Linked DNA regions of Homo sapiens: region 2 is linked to region 1. Evidence: fine-mapped expression QTL. A gene starts in region 1. The other region holds a variant in brackets. All regions are shown on one strand. Distances are from middle to middle. Region 1 holds the start of GEM (GTP binding protein overexpressed in skeletal muscle). Region 2 overlaps CDH17 (cadherin 17).

The links. PIP is the estimated chance that this variant, and not a neighbour inherited with it, causes the effect.
Region 2: its variant is the best candidate, but not a certain one, in a credible set for the expression of GEM in tibial artery (GTEx, PIP 0.51).

Annotation. Positions count from the first base shown.
Region 1 is chr8:94,260,223-94,264,479 of GRCh38, forward strand. GEM (GTP binding protein overexpressed in skeletal muscle) reads right to left here and starts at 2,097. Exons shown (of 5, transcript NM_005261.4): 1 at 1,868-2,097; 2 at 1-290. The coding sequence starts at 281. RefSeq lists silencers at 54-197, 1,339-1,408.
Region 2 is chr8:94,136,521-94,140,777 of GRCh38, forward strand. All of the region lies in intron 15 of CDH17 (cadherin 17), which reads right to left. Among named protein-coding and RNA genes, the nearest start is that of CDH17, 70 kb to the right of the region's middle. The variant G/T (reference allele first, on the strand shown) is at 2,547.

The DNA of each region.
Region 1 (4,257 bases):
ATGTTGGCCAGAGTGGACTTGCCCACCCCCTGCTCCCCTATGAGCACCACTCGGTAGTAGGTGTTCCCTGACTCAGAGGAGATGACTGAGTCTGTGGAGTCAGAGGACCAGCTTCGGCGGCAGTGGTCCTCAGGGGTAGCAGAATGGCGGTTGCGGTGGCTGTACTGGTGGGGCTCTTTCTGGACCATCAGATGCCTGCCATCAGCTGGGATGCTCCAGCGCTGCTGCTGTGGCTGCATGCCCACAGTGCCCTGGCGCATGGTGACATTATTCAGAGTCATCGTTGAGTCCTGGGGAGCAAAGCAGCCAAGATGGCAGCATTAGTAAGCATGAGTGAGAGCTCCGCTCAAATACATGGTCAGTCATCAGTAATATTTTATTAGATGAGATGAGAAGCAAGTATCCCTAACATAAAGACCACCAATTAAACAGTCCCCCAAACCCCAACAAGACAGGCTTTCAACTGGACACACACATGCTGCCCACACTGTCAGTAACCAGCTCCTCAGGCAGACTATCATTTGCATGGGAAAACAAATACGGTTAACATCACCCACTGCCCATGGGCTTCCCCCTTCCTCAAAGCAGACTTGGATGAAAGAAGAGCTGCACTCAGAGCTGGCACAAAGGCAGCTGGAAAGAACCAGCAGACTCCAAAGATGGCTTGAAAAGCAACAAGTTAATGTTGCTGGGGACCAGCTGGTCAGGTTAGCTGCTCTTGTCTAAACTTGGCTCTTAATTGCACCAGTGTCCAGCAGGTTTTGTGCCTCAGTGGGAAACACGTGGCAATGACATCACCCTCCCCTCCCCTGCCCACTGCAACCCTGGCTGGACTGGACAGGCACTTATTGGAACTTCCATGTTTAGTAAAGTTGCCTTGATGCTCTCCAGCTGCCTGGAGAGCATCCACCTGCCATTATTGGGGGTAGGGGGGAAATTTTCTGTTTAAAGTTTATGCCTCAGCTGTGCCCTCTTACCCACAGATACCACTTTTAAAACATCCCGGCTCCAAACCTAGACACCCTGGCAGAGAAATGACCTGCTCATGTTCAGACCTATGAAATTTGCAGAGAAAGTGCCTCATTCTTAAAAAACCACATCCATTCTCAAGAGTTCTTTAATTCAACTCAGATTCCTTTTTTGAGTCAGGGTCTTGCTCTGTCACCCAGGCTGGAGTGCAGTGGCACGATCATAGCTCACTGTAGCTAGCCTCCAACTGCCAGGCTCAAGAGATCCTCCACTTCAGCCTCCCAAGTAGCTGGGACTACAGACCTGCACTACCACGTCCACTAGTTTTTTTATTTTTATTTTTATTTTTTGGTAGAGACAGTGGCCTCACTATGTTGCCCAGGCTGGTCTCGAACTCCTGGGGTCAAGTGATCCTCCTGCCTCGGCTTCCGAAAGTGCTGAGATCACAGGCCTGAGCCACCATTCTCAGATCCCCTTCTTGAAGCAAATCAGAAGGCTGAAGACTCCCCTAAATGATATTCAACAACTTCTCTACAACTTTCCCTTTGCAGACTGCCTCCCCTAGCCGGGAGGTCTGTTTTTCCGGCTACTGGTGATAAAGTATAAGTACTTACGTTGCAATCAGCAAGATGCACAAACACTCCTCTCCCACCCTCACCCCCACACTCCGTACCCCAACATCTCGCCACTAACCAGGACGACCAGCCGGTTTTTTAGTCTCAAAAGCAGCACCTCAGTTGGCAGACTTACATTCAAACAACAAATACATAAAGCATCATTAAGGGCTGCCCTCTCTGACCACTCGATCTGTAGAGGGAGGTGACCCTTCTACCGAATTGAACTAAGGAACCTGCTGATGAGAAGCGACATCCTTTGCACTTGAAGCTCTGACCCCTACCAGAAAATCCCAGTGCTGAGCGCACGTTCCAGGGGTTCTTTTCTCAACTTCGAAAGTTCTGCGGGCTGGGAAACTCCCACTCTCTCCCTTCTCCGTCTCGGGCCGTCCCCCTTACTTGGCTCGGCCGGATCGGCGTCGGGGCGTCAGCGTATCGCGTGGGTCCGCGCTGGGATACCCGGGCCAACGAGCGGGGAGTGCTGCGCTGTGCCCGCCGTCCTTGCCCGCCGCCTGCAGCCGCCGCGGCCGGGCGGTTTATAACCAGCCCAGCCGACCCGCCGCGGGGCTTTTCCGTGACGTCAGCGCCCCCGCCGGGAGGGGGCGGCTCTGCAGCAAACTCGGAGTTGCAGCCACTTGGCTAAATCAGTTACTCGCAGTCATGTGACCCCTTCTCTCTCCATTTAAAAAATAATGACAGTTCAATCCTGGGCCTCCTTTATTTTGTTTTATTTTCTTTTTACCAGATGAACACAGGAAAATGGAAAAATACACTAAGTGACACTTAATCGTCCTTCCCAGCAAAGCACTTGCGAGCTGTCGGGATAAAGGATGGAAGGGAGAGGCAGGTTTGAGTTGAGAACTCAGTTTTGCCAAGAAAACAGAGATCAACCTGGAATGCGCAGAGACTTTAGCCTCCAGGATGAGACTGCAGCCACCTTGAATAGCCAAGGCTTGTTTTAACCACATCTTCTGCAACGAAGACAGCCTTGTCACCTTCTTCTGGATAGGGGGAAGCAGATGGAGCCCCACAAGGCTTTGTTTCCCTTCTCTGGCAAGGACCCAGAGAGAAGGGGCCAGAAAGAGGTGAGGAAAGAGGACAAGACCTTGAAAAGGGCAGTTTGGAAAAACAATTTAATTGAGGATCCAAGCAGATTGTGCTAAATATTGCTGGCCCTCCTGCTCTGGGCCAGAATGCTGAGGCTCCTCAATCAGGGAATTTAATCAGCATCCCAATCAGCAGCATCTCTGTACCAGGCTCCCTGGCAAGGCTACGCCTTGGGCATGAGCCAATACAGCCTGGCCATGGGGAGGAGCACTGAGACCAACACCCCTGTAAGAGACTCCTGTGAACAAAGGGCACAGGATAATAACTACTACTACCATTTATTAAGTACCTCTGAGGACCTCTGCTTAGTAGGTACTGTTAGGCCTCCTGGGACCTTAATCCTTACTATACTTCTGCAAGGTGGCTCTATTTCTACCCTCATTGTATGGAGGAGGAAGATAACATAGGGCCAGAGAATTTGCCCAAGGTCACACCGCTGGTATAAGTGGCAGGGTCAGGACTCAAAGCCTGGTTTTCCTGAGTCTCTGCACTGCACCACCAAGTGAAGGATTTCAATGACCTCTTTCTGGGGACATGGGTATTTCCCAGATGCTGTGTTTAGAGATGATGCTGGCCTCTCCAACATATCTGCTTTTCCAGCCAGCTTCAACTCTGGGTTGGCTGGTGGCTCCGGGAAGCAGCCAAAGGCACCAGCATCTATTGAAGCAGCTGGACTCTGCTGTGATTAGAGTCAATTCACAGTTATCCTGCAGGCATTTATCTGCTTTGAGAATTAGCTACATGACCAGCTGCTGAGACCTGCCAGGTCCCAAGCTAGCAAAGGTGGAATCCATAGAGTAATGAAAACTTAGAATTCCTTTAGTCTCAGGTGTTGTGGCCCCAATCTCCTACTTATCTTATACATAAGAAACCTGAGACCCAGAGAGGAGATGACCGCTTAGGACATGACAGAACTGGAACTACAACCTGGGGATCATAATTCTCTGGATGCCCTTTGCTTCTGTCAAGTTTTTCTTCTGGGTTTCGCTGACAGGAAGTGGCTACAGATGTGGGGAAAGGAAAAGGAGAGGAGATGGGGGGTGGGGGAGATCATCTCCAAGAGTATATCACTGACTCCATTCTAAAACACATGTAATTGATGAATAATCCATGTTTCAAAATGATCCATGCTTTTTCCATACTGACACTCCTACTCTGTCAACTGGTCTCAACAGAAACATCATAGGAGTAAAAACTAAGAAGAAATCAGTTTATAAGCATATGATATAGTTCCTCAGTTCTACTTTTGCCGATTGATAAGAATCTAATACTTCACATTTATAAAAACCTAATTCTGGCCAGGCACAGTGGCTCACGCCTGTAATCCTAGCACTTTGGGAGGCTGAGGTGGGTGGATCACGAGGTCAGGAGTTCAAGACCAGCCTGGCCAACGTAATGAAACCCTGTCTCTACTAAAAATACAAAAAAATAGCCGGGCATGGTGGTGGATGCCTGTAATCCCAGCTACTCAGGAGGCTGAGGCGGGAGAATCGCTTGAACCTGGGAGGCAGAGGTTGCAGTGAGCCGAGATCGTGCCATTGCACTCCAGCCTGGGCGACACAGCAAG
Region 2 (4,257 bases), 120 kb before region 1:
ATTCTAGTTAGCCATTCATCTAACCCTTTTTCAAGGTTTTTAGCTTCCTTGCGTTGGGTTCAAATGTGCTCCTTTAGCTCAGAGAAGTTTGTTATTACCAACCTTCTGAAGCCTGCTTCTGTCAACTCGTCAAAGTCATTCTCCATCCAGCTTTGTTCCGTTGCTGGCAAGGAGCTGCAATCCTTTGGAGGAGAAGAGGCATTCTGGTTTTTAGAATTTTCAGCTTTTCTGCTCTGGTTTCTCTCCACCTTTGGTCTTTGATGTTGGTGACCTACAGTTGGGGTTTTGGTGTAGATGTCCTTTTTGCTGATGTTGATGCTATTCCTTTCTGTTTGTTAGTTTTCCTTCTAACAGGTCCCTCAGCTGCAGGTCTGTTGGAGTTTGCTGGAGGTCCACTCCAGACCCTGTTTGCCTGGGTATCACCAGTGGAGGCTGCAGAACAGCAAATATTGCAGAACAGCAAATATTGCTGCCTGATCCTTCCTCTGGGAGCTTTGTCCCAGAGTGCTACCCACCTATATGAAGTATCAGTCAGCCCCTACTGGGAGGTGTCTCCCAATTAGGCTACATGGGGGTTTGGGACCCACTTGAGGAGGCAGTGTGTCTGTTCTCAGAGGTGAAATGTCATGCTGGGAGAACCGCTGCTCTCTCCAGAGCTGTCAGACAGGGATGTTTAAGTCTGCAGAAGTTATCTGCTACCTTTTGTTCAGCTATGCCCTGTCCATAGAAATGGAGTCTATAGAGGCAGTAGGCCTTGTTGAGCTGCTGTAGCCTCCACCCCATTTGAGCTTCCCAGCCGCTTTACCTACTGAAGCCTCAGCAATGGTGGATGCCCCTCTCCTAGCCAGGCTGCCACCTTGCAATTTGATCTCAGACTGCTGTGCTAACAGTGAACAAGGCTCTGTGGGCACGGGACCTGCCAAGCCAGGCACGGGAGAGAATCTCCTTCTCTGCCAGTTGCTAAGATCTTGGAAAAAGTGCAGTATTTGGGTGGGAGTGTCCTGTTTTTCCAGGTACAGTCTGTCATGGCTTCCCTTGACTAGGAAAGGGAAATCACCTCACCCTTGTGCTTCCTAGGTGAGGCGACACCCCACCCAGTTCAGAGCCATTTTAAACAATGAAATCACCAATGAAAAGCACAGAAACGTGAAAAACAGCGCACTACATAAACTGCAAAAAGTAAAAAAAAACCTAACTAACTTAACAATGTGAGAGCTGGGAATATGTGTGTCCAGTATTTTTCACCACCCTGCCAGTGTCCATGAAAGCAAAAGCGAAAGCTCCTGTAAGTACTGACTTTTGGGTTACAAATTTTATCATGTAGATTATTTTATAAACACAATCTGCAAATAATGGGGATCGACTGTATGTGTCAGAAGATTGGAGAGTACCTGGGACTGAGCTTCTGTAGACCTGATTCTGGGTTTCAAATCTGCTGCTTGTTAGCTATGTAATTGGGTAAGTCATAACATTTATAGGCCTCAAAATCCCTCTGAGTCCAGAAATAAGGGTATGCATGATATTATACCTGGTTTTCAGGGCATTTACCACCTTTTTTAAAATAGAAAATTGAGAGTACAAAAACACTAAACTTCAAATTTCTAAACAAAAATTTGATTTTGCTACAATTCACACTTATGCCCTCCCTATTCATATCTGCCAAGAAATTTTCCCAAATTTGGGAAGATTTAAATATGCATATTTAAAAATTATTATGGCCCACCTAGATAAGATATAGTAACAGGGACCAGAGTTACCATTCCACCAAAAACAACTAAAAGAACAAAAAATATGTGAAACCATGGGTTTAAAGATTTATATATTAGGCAATGGACAGTGATTTCTGAAAGAAGGAAAGCAAATGAGGTAAATTTTATAATTGCCTCAGCTTACCACCCAAAGCAAATATCCAGGTATCAGTTGCAGGGAGCAGGAGCTCAGACAGAGCCCAGTGATGTCCCTGAGTTGAGGTGATGGAGCACAGGAGTAAGGCAAAGTTAAGAAACTAGAGTTTACAGAGCAGAGTCCCAGAGAGAGCTGCAAAGAGAATGCACACTAAAGAGATTTATAGAGGGGTCTCTTAAGGCTTTAGCTGAGTACTGATCAGTGTATTTATATGAAGGAACTACTCAAGGCTGGGGAAAGAACCACCTAAAAAGATTAGAGAACACAGCGCTCACAAAGAGCCAGGAATCATTCCTGGTCCCTAGAGCTAAAAATCTCATAATTCATGTGCTACCAGGTAGAATACATAGAAGGCTTCACCTCACAAGTTTGAAAACATTAGCCCTAGAATAAATGCTGCCCTGGCCCTATCTAAGAAAATTTAAAAGCAACACATGAAAGCATCAAACTTTTTCCAAATGATCTAACTGTATTTCACAATAAAGTTCAAGAATATTTATGGGAATACAAAATATTCAGCATCTAAATGTCTGGCATTTAATAAAAAATTGCCAGACATTCAGTAAAAGAGAAAAATATGACCTATGAGAGAAAAGATCAATTGACGCCTACCCAGAAATTATACATATTACATAAATAGT[G/T]GGAAAAGACATGAAAACAGTTATAATTATATTCTATATGTTCAAGAAGCTACAAGACTGAGAAGTGTAGATAGATACAGAACATTTTAAAAACCCAAGTTAATTTATAGAAGAAAACTACAAAGTTTGATATAAAAATAGACTAGGTTGGATGAATGGCTATAATATAGCCATTGAATATAGCAGGAAAAAACAGTAAACTTGAAGATATAGAAATAAAGCTATCCAAAAAGAAATAGAAAAAAAATAAGCTTTGAGACAACTTCAAGTGGCCTAATACATGTGTAATCGAATTCCTGAAAGCCAAGAAAGATAGTGGAGAGAAAAACATTTTTGATAAGACAATGGCTAATATTTTTTCCATGTTAGATGAAAACTCCAAATCCTCAGATCCAAGATGATCATCAAACTTCAGGAATAAGAAAAATGAATAAAATGCCATCAAGGCAATATGAACATCAAATTACTTAAAAGTAATAAGAGAATATCTTAAAAGCACCCAGAGAAAAAAGAATACAAACATTCAATGGAACAAGGAAGAACCATAGTGGGCAGGGCACCCCCGGTGGCTCATGCCTATAATCCCAGCACTTTGGGAGGCTGGGGCAGGCAGATTACTTGAAGCCAGGAGTTTGAGACCAGTCTGGCCAACATGGAAAAACCCTGTCTCTACTAAAAATACAAAAAGTAGCTGGGCATCATGGTGTGCACCTGTAATCCCAGCTACTAGGGAGACTGAGGCACAAGAATCATTTGAACCTGGGAGGCTGAGATTGTGCCACTGCACTCCAGCCTGGGCAACAGAGTAAGACTGTCTCCAAAAAATAAAAAATAAATAAAAAAAAAGGGGGGGTGGTGAAATACCTTCAAAGTACTGAAAGAAAAAATGTCTAAATAAATTTAAAAGTATTCTAGTCATGTTTTCTGGTTATGATGTAATTAAATTAGAAGTTAGAAAGGTATAAGGTATAGGAAATATTCCCAGAATATTTGGAAACTAAATAACACACTTCTAAATAACACATAATCACAAAAGAAATCTAAAGGGAAAACACAATGTATCAAATTTTGTGGGCCTGGCATGGTGGTTCACACCTGTAATCCCAGCATTTTGGGAGGCTGAGGTGGGAGGCTCACTTGAACCCAGGAGTTTGAGACAAGCCAGAGCAACATAGTGTGACCCCCATCTCTACAAAAAATTTAAAAATAAAAAATTAGCCAAGTGTGGTAGCTCATACGTGTAGTCCCAGCTACTTGGGAGGCTGAAGCAGGAGGATCGTCTGAGCCCAGGAATTCAAGGCTGCAGTAAGCCATGATCACACCACTGCACTGCAGCCTGGGTGACTGAGGCCCTGTCTATTAAAAAAAAAATGCAGCTAATGTGACACCTAAGATAAATTTATAGCTCTAAATGCCTGTTTAACAAAAAGATCTCAAATTAATGGCATCAGCTTCCACCTTAATGAAAACAGAACACGAACAAAAACACAGTGTAGGAAGAATAAAGGAAACAATAAAGATCTAGCCAGTGAAATATAAAACAAAAACAGAAAAAAAATCAATGAAACCAAAAGCTGGTTCTTTGAAAATATCAATAAAACTTCTAGCCAGATTATCAGGAAAAAAGATAATTTGCCAATATCAGAATGAGGTGATATCACTACATATTCTACAGATATTAATAAAATATGAACTATATCAATACATTAGA